Regions from separate parts of the Homo sapiens genome. Here region 2 is linked to region 1. Evidence: fine-mapped expression QTL. A gene starts in region 1. The other region holds a variant in brackets. All regions are shown on one strand. Distances are between the middles of the regions. Region 1 holds the start of METTL9 (methyltransferase 9, His-X-His N1(pi)-histidine). Region 2 overlaps METTL9 (methyltransferase 9, His-X-His N1(pi)-histidine).

The links.
Region 2: its variant is fine-mapped to the expression of METTL9 in whole blood (TOPMed, PIP above 0.99).

What each region holds. Positions count from the first base shown.
Region 1 is chr16:21,595,986-21,604,316 of GRCh38, forward strand. METTL9 (methyltransferase 9, His-X-His N1(pi)-histidine) reads left to right here and starts at 3,592. Exons shown (of 5, transcript NM_016025.5): 1 at 3,592-3,913. The coding sequence starts at 3,749. It overlaps LOC101927814 (a long non-coding RNA gene), which reads right to left and starts at 3,400. Exons shown (of 3, transcript NR_110930.1): 1 at 2,671-3,400; 2 at 1,649-1,774. RefSeq lists a silencer at 3,579-4,198 and an enhancer at 4,307-4,871.
Region 2 is chr16:21,624,140-21,632,470 of GRCh38, forward strand. METTL9 (methyltransferase 9, His-X-His N1(pi)-histidine) reads left to right here. Exons shown (of 5, transcript NM_016025.5): 4 at 792-976. Among named protein-coding and RNA genes, the nearest start is that of IGSF6, 24 kb to the right of the region's middle. The variant A/G (reference allele first, on the strand shown) is at 4,635.

The DNA of each region.
Region 1 (8,331 bases):
GACACATTCTATTGAATATACTGGGAAAAAGCTGTATCTTTCTCTGAAGGTATACAAAACAATATTAAGAAGCATAAAAAATATCTGTCCATAAAAACATGATTATGGCCAGGTGCAGTGGCTCACGCCTGTAATCCTAGCACTTTGGGAGGCTGCAGCAGGCGGATCACGAGGTCAGGAGTTTGAGACCAGCCTGGCCAACATGGTGAAACCCCATCTCTACTAAAAATACAAAAAATAGCCAGGCGTGGTGGCAGGTGCCTATAATCCCAGCTACTCAGGAGGCTGAGGCAGGAGAATTGCTTGAACCCGAGAGGCAGAGGTTGCAGCAAGCCGAGATCGTGCCACTGCACTCCAGCCTGGGCAACAGAGCAAGACTCCATCTCGGGAAAAAAAAAGTGATTATATGAGTTATTTTTATTTTTATTTTTTGATACAGGGTCACCCAAGCTGGAGTGCAGTGGCACAATCTCAGTTCACTGCAGCCTCAGCCTCCCAGGCTCAGGTGATCCTCCCACCTCAGCCTCCTGAGTAGATGGGTCTACAGGTGCATGTCACCACGCCTGTCTTATTTTTGTATTTTTTGTAGACACGGGGTTTCTCCATGTTGCCCAGGCTGGCCTTGAACTCCTGGGCTCAAGCCATCCACCTGCCTTGGCTTCCCAAAGTGCTGGGATTACAAGCATGAGCCACCCTGCCTGGTCTATATGAGTTCTTTTTAAATCATTATCTCTTCAAGGAGATAACAATCATCAATAGGTTTTGTACAGATCCAAACTCTCTGCTTGTGGATTCTCTTAACATGATACTTTGTAATTGAAAAGAGAATATGAAAATGCCAAGCTTTGTAACTTCAAAGAACAACAATAACAAAAAGCCTTTGCCTAGAGATCTAGATAGGAAAGTGATCCCGCCAAAATTTTGGGCCTGTGTACAGGGCTGTGACCCAAGTGGGACACCTGGGGTCAATGAGCAGAGTTCGGTGCAGAGGGTCATTTGTGTATCTTTTGAATATTACTAACTGCATCTCAAGATCATGTTAGAACGAGTATTGGCTATTTGGCTTTTTGTGTCATCTTGCCCCTTCCCGTCTCCATTATGGAGAATTGAGGTTTTAATATACGGTAGTGACATTCTAGTAGATGAAGGAAGGGGGCTGTCCCCAGTGGGCAATCTGAACTTCTGCTTCGTATATTTACTCTTGCTGTTTTCGTTTCTCCTCATTTGTAATTCAGGAGGCTCTCTGAGAAGAGACAGCAAAGCTTCTTAGATGGATCGAAAGACCACGAGCTGGGATACCAAGTTCTATGAAAAGGTCAGCTATTGAATTTACTCTGCTACCTTCAGGCAAATCATTTGATCATCGGATGCTCTGGTTTCTTCCTGTGCCTGCTAAATGTAAATAGCATGGGTTTGAGTGTTTGGTGGTTATTATAGAGTATTTTAAATGTATGAGTGATTTATTTTTCTAGGCCAGCTGCTCAGATATAAAACAAAATCTGCTCCTTTGAGCTGTTAGGCTTCGTGGCAGTCAACTGACCCCAAAATCCTTCTGACTACAGCAGCCATCTACTTGCTTGTTCATCTGATAACATTTTGCAGTCTCTCAGCTACAGCTATGTGGTCTCACTCTATAGCTGGGGCATACCTTTTTGTCTCCTTTGTCTTCAGAAAGGAAATATGCCATTTTATGCACTCCTGCTGCTTTCACCCCCACTTTAAAAAGATGAAGGCTTCCTTTTGTGACAGAGTTGCTTTGTCTGTTACACTGATCCTAAGAGACAGGAAGGAGAGGTGTCATAGTAAATAAACAGTTATTGGACTTGCTACCATAGTTCCTTTTTGATGACTTGGGCCAGGACCACTAGAGGTTTGAACTAGATTTAGTAAGGCTTGGGCTTTTCGGGGTTTTGGCAGGAAGCAGTCAGGGAGTATATTGGAAAGAGAGAACACAAAATACCGAACCCCACCCACCCTGTGCCTTTTTGTTTGTTGTTACAGCCTGTTACATTAGGCAACAAGATATCCTTGTTAGCCAAAGGTGCCAAGCTGAGATTCTTAAAAGCTAATGAAAGAGCTGTTGGGCCAGGTGCGGTGGCTCACGCCTGTAATCCCAGCACTTTGGGAGGCCGAGGCAGGCGGATCACGAGGTCAAGAGATGGAGACCATCCTGGCCAACATGGTGAAATCCCGTCTCTACGAAAAACACAAAAATTAGCTGGGCATGGTGGCGCGCACCCGTAGTCCCAGCTGCTCGGGAGGCTGAGGCAGAAGAATTGCTTGAACCCGGGAGGCGGAGTTTGAAGTGAGCCGAGATCGAGCCACTGCACTCCAGCCTGGAGACAGAGCGAGACTCCACTCCGTTTCAAAAAAAAAAAAAAAAAAAAGCTGTTGGGTAAGGAATGATTTTGTTCCCCATCTGTGGCTCACCACCCCACTGTTTCATAAATGAAAATCTCTGATGTGCAACGCTGAATTAACCAAAAGGCTTACTTCTTTTGTTTTGAACTTAGACACATTTACATTATTTCTGGTGCAGTTAAATTAAAAGCACTTTCCAAACAAACCTAGGAAAGTATTAAAGTTAGGGACTCCCACGAAATGTTACTCCTTAATTGTGGCTTGGATAATAGCAGGAAGAACTGCAGACAGGAACACAGTGTAACTAACCCTTCAGTTCTGAAATGTTGCTAGGTCTCCTCGTGTTATAAATGATCAAATAAATATCCGGGTTAAACACTGCTCCCAGAGCTGAGTTCACTCTTAAGAGTGTTGGGTCCAACTTCCCTGTGCTAATTCAAGGAAACAAGGCAGCCAAGGAGTCTAACTTGAGGTCTTCATTCTTGGGCAGGGCCATCAATACATCTAAAACATTACTTGTGGGTACCCCAGCTGCGGTAGCTTCCCCAAAAGGCAGAATTTTCACTCATTCTTTATAGAAACACGTAGCCAGCAACTTCTCAGGCTTGGGGAACGGGGCAGGCGGGTCGTGGTGGTGGGGAGAGTAGAGGAGGGAGTCTGGCAGGTCGGTTCTAAATGTAAACTGGAAACTACGCATCCGAGCGGGCAACCATCACTGGCACCATTCGTCTCCGGGAAGAACCTGTGTGTGTCAGGATGCACGAAAGGAATGACTCCCCTCTTTGCGCCCCCGGGGTTAACTGCACGACCCTGTCAAAGTCCCGCCGTGGAGTGGGATGAGGGTCGAGAGGTAACCCTGTCAAAGTCCCGCCGTGGAGTGGGATGAGGCGAGGAAAGACTGGAGGTCCTTCCAGCACCACCTTGGAGGGGCAGGGAGGCTGCAGTTACCGCCTTCGGAAGTGATCTCCTCAGCCCTCAAAAAAATTAAAACCACCTCCGCCATTTACTAGAGGCCAAGGCAGGGCCGGGACACGAGAACGCGCTCCGGGCGGATGCGCGCTCCCTTTGTCCCGCCTCCCAGCGGCCCGCTCATTGGACGGAGGGAGGGCGCCGGGGGAGAAAGCGACGCGGCCGCTCGTAAGTGCTCCGGATGGAAACTGGTGCAGGGGGCAGCGGCGTTCCGCGGCCGGAAGGGAAGGGGGAGGTGCCGAGGCTGCGCGCCGGCTGCTCCTCCCCACCCCCAGCCTTTGCCCTGAAGGGGGCTGGATGGGCAAGGCGGCCGCGATGGCTCGAGCTCGGGCGGTGGCGGCGGTGGCCGGAGGCGGCGGTGCCTCCTCCTCCTCGCCCCGGCGCCGGCGGTGATCCGAGCGAGCGGCCGCGGCCCCCGATGAGACTGCTGGCGGGCTGGCTGTGCCTGAGCCTGGCGTCCGTGTGGCTGGCGCGGAGGATGTGGACGCTGCGGAGCCCGCTCACCCGCTCCCTGTACGTGAACATGACTAGCGGCCCGGGTGGGCCGGCGGCGGCCGCGGGCGGCAGGAAGGAGAACCACCAGGTACGGGCTGGGGCCGGGGCCGGGGCGGGGGCGTGGCGGCCCGGCCTTCCCGCGCTGGGCCCGGCTATTGTGCGGGACGGCTCCGCGAGGGGGCGGCCCGGCCCTCGCCCCTCCGCCTCGGCCCCTTGGAAAGTTTTCCCCGCGCCTTCCCCGCCGGGCGTCGACTCCGCGAGCCCCGGGCACCCGGCCGCGGCCCCGCGAGCGCCTTTTGTTCCGCAGCGCAGGCGGGGCATGGCCTCCCGGGCCCGATCGTGAGCGGCCCGGAGCCCCGCATTGTTCCTGGGTCCCGGGCGGTGACTGCGGACGCCCGGCAGCGGGACTGGGGAACTTTGGGGCCAGAGCGTGGCTGGGGGCGCCCGCCTGGCACCGAGGCCTGAGACTGAAGAGACCCGGCCAGATCCATTACCCCGAGAAACAAAACGAAAAGCCAGCCCCTCTTGTTGTCTCGTTGAATCCCAGAACGTACAAAGGGTCGTGAAGAAATGTAACTGTACATCGCAAGCCATTGAACTCTCCAGGCTGATTGGGGTGACATTTCTCCCTAAGCACTTAAAAAATGGGTTTGACAGGTTGTCGCTCCCATCCTACGGAACCTTCCCCTCCTACCTAGCAGAGATCTCCTTTAAACTTGGATTTAGTCAGCCTGCTAGAAAGATTGTGTGTGATGAGGAGGAAGATTATGCAAGTTTTACAGGAAGGGTTTTTAAAACAGAACGGGACGGGAGGGAGTTTTAGTTATGCATCGTGAGCGTTACGCTGTGACCGGGTAGGTAGGCTTTTCATTAGCTCAGTCTTGCGCCACTTAAACGTGTACAGGTTAACTGTAGAATTAAGTGAGATATTTCGTATATGACCTTAACATAGTTTGCAGTTAATGTTAAATTCATTGAAAAGAGGCTTTTGAACTCTGCCAGAGTGTTGGCTTGTCATAGCTAGCATTTATAATACATTTTGCTTTTCCATAGAGTATTAATTATTCCCTATATCATCTTGTGTCTCATCATTTTCATATATTTCTCATTTTCCTACATTACTTTTTTATTATGCCAGGTGTTCAGAGAATTTACACCCAGGTTGATTTCATGTGTTTTAATGAGGGTAGAGAATTGTCTAAGAAGGAGATAGAGCAATTTAGAAAAGTAGCATTTAGTCTTTAGTAATATGTATATTGGGCTTTTTTCTATTGTTAAAGGAATCCTAAATTTCTGTAAATTTTTTTGAAAGCCTCCAGCCATTGCAGTTTGTTAGGTGCAATATCAGTATCATTGATCACTTGTATGATATGGTTAGGAATGTATGTAAACTTAAATTGCAAAACCACATTTATTCCTATGGATTATTTGCTTACACTAGTTCATTCTTATAGAGACAACTCAAAGGTACTGTACCGTTGACTGTACAGTTACCAGAATGTCACATATGGAACAATGGGGTAGACAATGAATTAGAAATGTCATTTTTAACATTTTTAAGCAGTTGATAGAAATAAGGTCCTGGATAGGAGAAAAAGCGATTTATCTCCATTGATGGGGGATTATGGTTGAGTCTCTTAGCTATTGGTATTTATAACACTTATCATGATTACCCCTACTGCAGCCACTTGGTAGGTTTTTAGTGCTCATAAAAGAATTGCACTTATTTTAAAATTGAAACACTATTTCAACACTGTGATGTGTATGGAGGCGGAATTGCAGCTGTAGACATAGCCTCAGAATATCTCCCAGCAGAGGATACTTTCTGACTGTACCTTTTAAAAGCTGAATCTGTTAAGTTCTAATGAAAACTAATACTGGTTTCAGATACGTTTATTTCAGATACCGTATTTATATTCTGTGTGTGTGTGTGTGTGTGTGTGTGTGTGTGTACCCCTTCACTAACAATTCAGCAGATAATTTCTTTAGGGTGAAGACTTAATATGGTGTTTTCTGAATATTTGGGGGATGGGTCAACTCTTTTCCTTAGAATAATGAATCCAGACATTATTTTGACATGAATACATTCATATTATGAAAATAATCGTGCATGAATAAAGATTAAAAGGAACAGAAGAAAGGTGTGTAGAAACCACCATGAGATAAAGTAGGAAACTGTCCTTTCTGCACTGTGGCTGGAGTTGATAATTTGTTTTCCACTTAATATTCCAGGATCCTGGGTTTGCCTTATAACTTCGTTGCTTGTGAAGTAACTGTAACTGTTTTTCCTCCTTCAGATTAATAGTTTTATACAAGGTCTTCTAAGTGTTCAGTTGGGTGTGTGAGTTCCATAGCCAGCCACATCTGGGCCTTTTGGAGTTGCATAAAAGTAGGGTTGTGGATTTGATTGAACCATACTTAGCAAAAGTGTTCCTTCTGGTTATTTTATTAAGGAATTATGATGGAGGATTCTGTGGTTAAAAGAGAGATCTTGGGCAATGTTTATTCGTTAAAAATGGCTATTTTGTTAGTATAGTTTGGAGAGGCAAGGCTCCTTTGGGCTAAAGCTGCTCTAAAACTGTAGTAGCAGTGCCATTTTAGTAACTTGGTTTGGTGTGCTAGCTTCAAAACTGGGATTATGTTTCACTTTGGGCAAGCAAGAAGCAGGGTTTCACTTAGAGCAGGGAAGTGGCTGGGAGGCCAGACTGGTCTCACAGACTTATTTTACAGCCTATGAAATAAGAATAGTTTTATATTTTTAAATGGTTACCAAGAAAATATCAAAATAACATTTTGTAATACATGAAGTTTCATTTATGGAATTCAAATTTATTTCAGTGTCTACAAATAAAGTGTTTTTTTTTTGAGATGGAGTCTCGCTTCGTCACCCAGGCTGGAGCGCAGTGGCCCAATTTTGGTTCACTGCAACCTCTGCCTCCCAGGTTCAAGCAATTCTGATGTCTCAGCCTCCCGAGTAGCTGGGATTACAGGTGAACACCACCACGCCCAGATAATTTTTGTAGTTTTCAGTAGAGATGGGGTTTCACTATGTTGGTTAGGCTGGTCTCAAACTCCTGACCTCAAGTGATCCTTCTTCCTGGGCCTCCCAAAGTGCTGGGATTACAGGCGTGAGGTACTACACCCAGCCCACAAATAAAGTTTTATTGAAAGAGAACTACCACATTCATTTACCTGTGGTCTATGAGCTCCCTGGCTACAATAGCAGCATATTTGCTACTGTATGGCCTGCAAGCCTAAAACATTTACTACGTGGCTTCTTACAGAATAAAGACTTTTTCCAAGAGAAATTCCCAGCTTCCTTAACAAACAGCTTTTTTTTTTTTTTGGAGACAGGGTCTCACTGTGTCACCCAGGCTGGAGTGTAGTGGCACAATCTCAGCTCACTGCATCCTCGACCTCCTGGGTTCAAGCGGTTCTCATGCCTCAGCCTCTCCATAGCTGGGATTACAGGCACGTGCCAGCACACCTGGTTAATTTTTGTAGTTTTAGTAGAGACAGGGCTTCACCATGTTGGCCAGGCTGGTCTTGAACTCCTGGCCTCAAGTGATCTTCCCACATCGGCTTCCCAAAGTGCTGGAATTACAGGAGTGAGCCACTGCAACCAGCCTCCAACAGCATATTCTTAATCACAGGTTGCAGGGTGGGTAGATTGACTCACTGGGAAGAAATAGAGGCAGGCAGTGAGAAACTAGTAGATATTGTCACTTTGCAATGTTGGCAGACTCAGAATTTAAAAAGACAACAACAAAAAACTTAGGATCTATTCTTTTTGATGCATTGCACCTAGTGCTTAAAGTTAATGCAACTATTATGGAGCTACTGAAACTTTGAAAGGACCCTTAGGCCCCAGGTTCTTGGTAATAATAGCGGTTCAGTAGCTTCTCAATTGATGGAGTGAAAAAATTGTTATAGAACTCGCTGAACCAAACCACAACGATTTCTCCGGGTGACATACTGCAAGGTTTTTTAAAAGCACAGATAACATTCAATATCTGGAATTATTAAGTTGTAACTTAAAATTGCAAGTATGTGTATATTTTTGTGACTTATTTTTTCACTTTCTTATATAAGCTCAGAACTGCGCTATGCCACAAGTGATGAAGAATTCAAGAAAGAATTAAAATCCTTTTTTTTCCCCCAAATGAAAAAATACTTGGACAGCATAGCCAGAGCCAAACACTGTGCTAAAGGACAGAGTGTTTCCTGTCCCTTTACCCCTCACTTACCCTGTGGAGGCAGACTGGAGTCAGGCATGAGTTAACAATGCTTCAAGGATAGTCAGCCAGCTAAGCCGGACAGACACTGATGGATTGGCGTCCTTCTCTGAACTGCCTTCGAGAGTCTGGAGGCCTTTGCAGCTGAATACCAAAGAGACTTCAGAAAGGATTTCTTTGCTTCCTCATAATCTGTGTTGAAACCCCAAGTGTTTGCTTCAGTTTCACAGAACACTAGAATCTCTTTCTTGTGCTGGATATACCAGGAGTC
Region 2 (8,331 bases), 28 kb after region 1:
GCTCAAAGGTCATAAGTTATCAATGGAAATTATTTTATACCACTCCCAGCCATTTTTAAGAATAGAAGGGATCCTAGGAATAGAAAACATTAATTATATGATGCATTTTTTGATTAAGTTCCAATGAATGGTAAAAAGCTGGACTCTTGTTCATTAACTGATATTCAAAAGAATTTGATGTTTTAGTTTCATAACTTTGTCAGGTTACATCTTCATACTTATTAAACATGATTAGTTCTTGTAAAGGAAACTTCGTATGTGTTGAGATTTGGAAATAGGTGAAATGCTAAATTTAAAGAAATATGGGCCAGTCGTGGTAGCTCACACCTGTAATCCCAGCACTTTGGGAGGCCGAGGCAGTCGGATCGCTTGAGGTGAGGAGTTCAAGATCAGCTTAGCCAATGTGGTAAAACCCCGTCTCTACTAAAAACACAAAAATTAGCCGGGCATGGTGGCAACTGCCTGTAATCTCAGTTACTGGGGAGGCGGAGGCAGGAGAATCACTTGAACCTGGGAGGCAGAGGTTGCAGTGAGCCGAGATTGCTCTACTGTACTCCAGCCTGGGCAACAGAGTGAGGCTGTGTCTCAAAAAAGAAAAAATTAAAAAAAAAAAAAAATGGTTGCTATTTTTCTCTTCCTTGGCCATGTCATTATTGCAAACATAAATTATAACAGAAGATTTTGAACTTAATTTAGAAGACAAAGTTAAAGCCTTTATTGTCATCTCAGTTATTTTTAAAGATGTCTTTAGAGGGACTTTATGTTAATACAGTTATTTCTGATTTTTCTAGAGTCCTTGGTATAAATGAATGGCAGAATACGGGGTTCCAGTATGATGTCATCAGCTGCCTGAACTTGCTGGACCGCTGTGATCAGCCCCTGACTTTGTTAAAAGATATCAGAAGTGTCTTGGAGCCAACTAGAGGCAGGGTCATCCTTGCCCTTGTCCTCCCCTTTCATCCCTATGTGGAAAACGGTAAGTGTGGTCAGTCAGGCTAGCTCTTACTGAGGATAGCTGTTTATTGGTATTTGTGATTTTGTGCTGTGTACAATTAAATATTGTCTAGTATGTCTTATAATAGCCTGCAGTTTAAAGTAATCCAGTTAATCCATGTAAAACACCATCTTGGTTAATGTTCACCTTAAGGTGGACTTTATAGAGGTCTAGCATTCCCCTTGCAGTGGTAATAATTAATATTTAGCTGGGTCTGACTGCTTGAGATTGAAAGCTAAAAATGCAACTGTATCTCTGGTTTTAAATGGAGCTTGAACCATTTATTTATTAGCTTTACAACTGAATCGAGCAATAAACAGTGCCTTTAAATCTGGTCGTATATACTTGCTGAATGTCATGGCTGTTTTGTTTTCCGTTTTGCATCTCTTGTGCCAGACTCTAAAAATGATAAATGCTTTTATCTGTTTTTTTCTCTTTTGAAGACCATGTGTGTTGTTGCAGCATGTATCATTTCTTTCTGTAACATTTGATTTTTTGATTGCATGGTCTTGCTCTTCAGCAATATTGAATGAAGAATATGTTAGAAGAAACGGGTTGATTTCATATCACTTCATAGTTACTGTGACTTCTGGCCATTCTGACTTAATGCCACATTAAGTTATAGTTTTAGTTTGTGTGGTTTGCATTTTAGGTCATCTTGAAAGTTATGATTTTAAGTCTCCTGCATTTTCATAAGTTAATGTACATTAATATAAAATTATTTATTTTATGAATAATACAAGTTACTATTTAAAAATCTTCAGTGTTTCATTTATTTTTTTGAGACAGAGCCTTGCTCTGTCGCCCAGGCTGGAGTGCAGTGGTGCGATCTTGGCTCACTGCAACCTCTACCTCGTGGGTTCAGGCATTCTCCGGCCTCAGCCTTCTGAGTCCCAAGTAACTGGGACTTCAGGCACATGCCACTATGCCTGGCTAATTTTTGTATTTTCAGTAGAGATGGGGTTTCGCCATGTTGACCAGGCTGGTCTCTAACTCCTGATCTCAGGTGATCCTCCTGTCTCTGCCTCCCAAAATGCTGAGATTACAGGTGCGAGCCACCATCCCTGGCTGAAAAATCTTCAGATTTTCTATTTCACTGCCTCGATTGACCTTGACTTCAGAAACTCTTAAGAGCTCACAGACATTTTGAAGAAATCTATTAGGATTTTGCAAATGTCATTATTATCAAATATGAAAATCTATGTCTTAAGGAATAATGCCCGTTTCATATAACCATTGGATTCTGTGTGGATTTGTGGTGTCACAAATTAATTTAATTTCTTGTATGTGTTTTTTCTCCCCAGATCTTAGTGCCTTCAGATTTAATGCTTGTCTTAATATTTACCAAATGGTTTCAGATTTGTGTTGATAATGGGGAAAATGGGGAATTCTTTCGATATAGAAGGGTGTGGAAAAGAGCAGAGAGAACAGATCTCCCCTTTCCCATCTTAGATCTCCATTTTTATGTTCCTGTTGTCGAGTGGTTTGTCATGGTAAAGAAAAAATGCTTTTAAATGTGAGTGTATATATATCATCTATATGTTGCAAAATGTCCTCCTTCGTGATTCAGCAACCTGATCTTACTTCAGTGCTACTCCTTCCTGTGTAATTAAGCCTCAGCTCCAGCTCTCTGTATTGCACTCACTAGTCATCAGGTTGGAAGGTCCTGGGTTCCTGTGTCCTGTTGGGCAACCGCATGATAGAACTTTAATGCTACTTCCTGGCATAGCAGGAGATGAAAGAGCAGGGGGAAGAAACATCAATCTAACCACGAATTTTATTTCCTTGTGTTTCTGATGCTAAAAATGGAGAGGAAGTCAAACTAGACAAGAGGGAAGTCTCCATGAAGTGTGGAAAACAAGCTCCTTGATTGTGGATGTGCAGAGCTGCCTGTTGAGTCTGAGGAGTCTGGCATGTGACACACTGCAGACCTGAGACAAGAAGCCTTGTTGCTATGGGTGACTTTTAGTGACCTATAAATTTTGCAGGCGCGCCACGGCACTCTATTATTGCTTTCTTTCTCTGAGTCACTAATTAGATCCTGATGATTTCCATGTGAAACCATGAGGACTGGGAGATGCAAAATGGTTTTGCTGTGTAGATTCATGAATGCTGGACTGTTGGAGGATATCTGAGTGTGCTTTGCATACTTGGCTTAATTTGTTTTTTTTTAACTAAAAGTAGTTGTAGGTGAAATGATTACTTAGGTAATTGTTTTGGTAAATGGCTTGAAGTTGAACCACAGCAGTTTTGCTATTTGGAAAAAAAATGAAAAAAATACCATTCTAATTTCAGTTTATTTGGTTTACTGACCCAGTTTTGGCTAGGGGTTATTGAATCTAGTGAGAATTATTTTAAGCACCCCCCAAAGAAGGAAAGATATGAAGTCAAGAGAAGGATAATTATATTGTAAAAATAAAAATTTAATGATGTTTAATTTTTCAAAATTGTAATTTTTATTAAAAAGTAATTCAGTAATTAAAAAAAAATACTTCAAGCAACTTACTAGAGGGTTTACAATAAAAAGTTTCTGGGCTGTGCGTGGTGGCTCATGCTTGTAATCCCAGCACTTTGGGAGGCCAAGGCAGGCAGATCATGAGGTCAGGAGATCGAGACCATCCTGAGTTAACACAGTGAAACACCATCTCTGCTAAAAATATAAAAACAAAATTAGCCGGGTGTGGTGGTGGGCGCCTGTAGTTCCAGCTACTGGGGAGGCTGAGGTGGGAGAACGGCGTGAACCCAGGAGGCGGAGCTTGCCGTGAGCCGAGATTGCACCACTGCACTCCAGCCTGGGTGACAGAGCCAGACTCCATCTCAAAAAACAAACAAAACAAAAAAAGTTTCTCATCCAGTCCAGTTCCACAATCTTGTTCAGGTTTCTTGAATATTCTTTAAAAGATAGTCTATGTAAATGTAAGTCTGTATGTACATTAAAAAAATTATACAGGCAGTTCCCAATTATAAATAACTTCTGTTGCCTTTTTCCACTTAAATGTATCTAGGAAAGTAGTTCTTACCAGCACATATGTCTCCACATGGTTGTCTACATGTAAGCTGTAGATGCTGGAGCTGGCGTGGACTGGTTCATGAGAGCTGATTGTTGTTTTGGTAGGAATTTAAGTGAACTGGTTGTTAAACATGGCCATTATTGAAATTGACCATGATGGGAGTATTTACACTATAGAAATTGGCAAACACTGCAAATAGCCATTTTCTTCTCCAAGCTGGTAGTTACACATTTACCAGCACACCACTAGATGTATAACTTTACTAGAGGAGGTCTCTAGATAGCAATTTGCTTAGTAATGTTTAAAAACAAAACACCCTCCCCTGTCCTCCCCCACTTTTTTTTCTTTCTTTCTTTTTCTTTCTTTTCTGAAAGGGACTTGCTCTGTTGCCCAGACGGGAGTGCAGTGGTGCTGTCACAGCTCACTGCAGCCTTGACCTCCTGGGCTCAAGCTATTCTCCCACCTCAGCCTCCTGAGTAGCTGGGACTACAGGTGCATACCACCACACCCATCTAACTTTTGTATTTTTTTGGTAGAGAGGGCGTCTGGCGGCGTTGTCCAGGCTGGTCTTGAACTCTTGGAATCAAGTGATTGGCCTGCCTTCGCCTCCCAGCGTGTTGGGATTATAG[A/G]TGTGAGCCACTGCACCTGGCCTTGTTTCTAACTTTAATGAAAATATTACTACTTTAAATATGATGCTAATTTTTTTTTTTTTTACTTGAAGTTGCTGTTGTTTGGCTTGAGATGTTTCTTTTTTTTTTTTTTGGAGATGGAGTCTCACTCTGTCACCGAGGATGGAATGTGGTGGCACGATCTTGGCTTACTCACTGCAACCTCCGCCTCCTGGGTTCAAGTGATTTTCCTGACTCAGCCTGCTGAGTAGCTGGGGTTATAGATGTGTGCCACCACACCCGGCTCATTTTTGTATTTTTAGTAGAGACAGGGTTTCGCTATGTTGGCCAGGCTGATCTTGAACTCCTGACCTCAAGTGATGCCCCCTCAGTCTCCCAAAGTGCTGTGATTACATTTCCCTCTTAAAGTTGTGTTATAGACTGCGTGTTTGTTTGTGTTCCTCCCAGATATATATTTTGAGGCCCCCACCCCCCATCGTGATGGTATTAGGAAGGGGTCTTTAGGAGGTGATTAGGATTAGATGAGATCATGAGAGCAGAGCCTTCCTGAATGGGATGAATGCCCTTTTAAGAGTTCCGAGAGACCTTGCTTCTCTCTACCTTCTGCCATGCAAGGATACAACAAGAGGTCAGCAGCCTGTACCTAGAAAGAGGGTCCTCACCAGAACTCATAAATTTCTATTGTTCTGTGTCTGGAATTGGTGGGTTCTTGGTCTCTCTGACTTCAGGAATGAAGCTACAAACCTTTGCGGTGAGTGTTACAGTTCATAAAGGCGGCCTGTCTGGAGGTGTTAGTTCCTTCTGGTGGGTTCCTGGTCTTGCTGGCCTCAGGAGTGAAGCTGCAGACCTTTGCGGTGAGTGTTACAGCTCTTAAAGGTGGCACGGACCCAAAGCGTGAGCAGCAGTAAGATTTATTGCAAAGAACGAAAGAACAAAGCTTCCTCAGCATGGATGGGGACCCAGCAGGTTGGTGCTGCTGGCTTGGGTGGCCTGCTTTTATTCCCTTATCTGGCCCCACCCACAGCCTGCTGATTGGTCCATTTTACAGAGAGCTGATTGGTCCATTTTACAGAGAGCTGATTGGTCCGTTTTGACAGAGCGCTGATTGGTGCGTTTACACCTTTAGTTAGACACAGAGTGCTGATTGGTGCGTTTACAATCCCTTAGCAAGACACAAAAGTTCTCCAAGTCCCCTACCTGATTAGCTAGACACAGAACGCTGACTGGTGCGTTTACAAACCATTAGCTAGACACAGAGTGCTGATTGGTGTGTTTACAAACTTTTAGGTAGACACAGAGTGCTGATTGGTACATTTACAAACCTTTAGCTAGACAGAAAAGTTCTCCAGGTCCCCACCCGACCCAGAAGCCCAGCTGGCTTCACCTCTCAATGGCACTGGCTGCGGGACTTTGCGGCACCTAGCCTGGGCACTCCGACAGCCCAGTGGGAGCTTGTCCCCCGATCAAGCCCAGCAGGCGCTGGCTGGTGGCGCCAAGTGCGGGGCCTGCCGAGCCTGCGCCCACCCGGAACCCACGCTGGCTCCCGCCTGCACCTCTCCCTTCACACCTCCCTGTGAGCAGAGGGAGCCGGCTCTGGCCTCGGCCAGCCCCAGAGAGGAGGCCCCTACAGTGCAGCCGTGGGCTGAAGGGCTCCTCGAGCACAGCCAGAGCCGACGCCGTGGCCGAGGGGGCGCCGAGAGCGAGCGAGGGCTGCTAGCACGTTGTCACCTCTCAATCCCCCGTCTAAACAGGATACCCCCAACTGCTGTTGGGAATTTGGCTGATGACCACTCTAGCTACTTCCTGCTGGATAGGGGCGAAGAAGGGGCCCTGCAGTTGTAGTGTCCTCCAGAGGGGAACTCTTTAGGCCAGTGGAAGGGCCAGCGGGTTGGTCCAGGGGTCCTCGGTAGAAGTTGTTAGTTGAGCTCATTTGGGGTTCCATTTGTAAGACCATCTATAGCTTGATGGCCTCCATTCTAGAGGAAACAAATTTGACAAGAAGGTTAAAATTACAGGGCCCAAAGGTGAGTAACAGCAAGATGGCTGCCACAGGACCTAGAAAGGGGAGAAGCCATGTTGCCCAACTCCAGAGGTTGGTACAAGAGTTTGAAAGGTGGTGTCTGATTTCAGAAGCCTTTTCCTGTAAACGCTGGGCGGCATCTCGTACTATCCCTGCCTGGTTAGTGTAAAAACAACACTCTTCTCCTAAGAAGGTGCAGAGTCCTCCCTTCTCAGCAGTGAGGAGGTCTACGCCTCAGGGGTTTTGGAGAGTCACTATTGCCAGAGAGTCTATTTGGGATTGTAGAGTATGGATAGATTTTGTTATTTCTTGCAAACTATCTGAGAAATCCTTTGATAGTGTGTAATAGTAGGATAATGAAGTAGATAAACTGGCTATTCCGGTTCCTGTAGCAGTAGCCATTCCTAACCCTATAAATAGGGGTATTAGTTGTATGGCTCTGTGCTGACGGACTTGAGCTTTGAAGAGTATTGATAGGGTCTGATTTCCACAAGATTAGAAGTTAGGATAATATATGTTTACACTGTTAACTTTTAGCAAACTTTACTTTTGTTGAAAACCTTTTAAGTTTGGGATTTCAATTATTCTTTGCTATTAATAAGACCTCGTTTAGTGTATATTAACTTAGAATTGGTATAGATGGCTCCTTCCTGATTCTGTAAGTACTTTAAGGCTCAGCTGAGTGCAAACAGCTTGCAAGTTTGAGCAGACCAATTATTAGGCAATTTTCCTAACTCTGTTTCTACAAGAGTTTCCTTATCATTTACTGAATACTCATTGTGTCGTTTTTCCTTAATCGCCCGGGAGGAACCATCTATCGTCCTGTCCTGAAGGGAGTTCCTCCTATGTCTGATTGGACCTTTGTATGGTGATTAAGATTTAGATCCCCTGTTAGGAAACCTGCTGGGTTAAGGATTTTTGATAGGAAGGCTATGGGTTGTCAGTGGCCTCAGTGCTTTCGCGCTACGCCCTTGTTTACACTGACAACAAGGTGGTATTGGAGTGTTACAGGGTTACAGAGAAGACCTTCAATTATCAATTATAGGTTTTAACTTTACCCTGGCTTTTAAAGGAATAGGGTACACTGTTTTTTCTTTACTACTTCCATCTCTCTTTCTCTTTGACTTTTTCTTTGTCTCTCTCTCTCACTGACTCCCTCTTTGTCTCTGTCTCTTTGACTTTGTCTCTTTCTTTCTTTCTCTCTGACTCCCTCTGTCTCTTCCTCTCTTCCCTTTCTGCTGGTTTTTCCCTGCCTCTGCCAGCCACTTATCCTGCTGTTCTCCCCTCTCCTTCCCCTTTTGATGGCTTTGGCAGTGTAAGACTGCCGCCTCCTTGGGTTTTTGCACTGCATGCAAAAACTCCATAATTGCCTTGTGGTATTTAATGGGGGTTCCCCCCAGAGGTTAGGAACTCCCTTTCTTTCCATATTGCAGCATTGGCATGTAGGATTACATAAGCATACTTGCTATCTGTATACACATTTATTCTTTTTCCCTTTTCCAGTTCTAAGGCTCAGGTAAGTGCCACTAGTTATGCTAACTGGGCACTGGTCCCTGGGGGAAGAGGCTTACTTTCAAGTACGGTTACATCATGAACTATGGCATAATCTGCCCTTTGTATCCCATTCTCCACAAATGAACTTCCATCGGTATATAGGTTAAGGTCAGGATTAGCTAG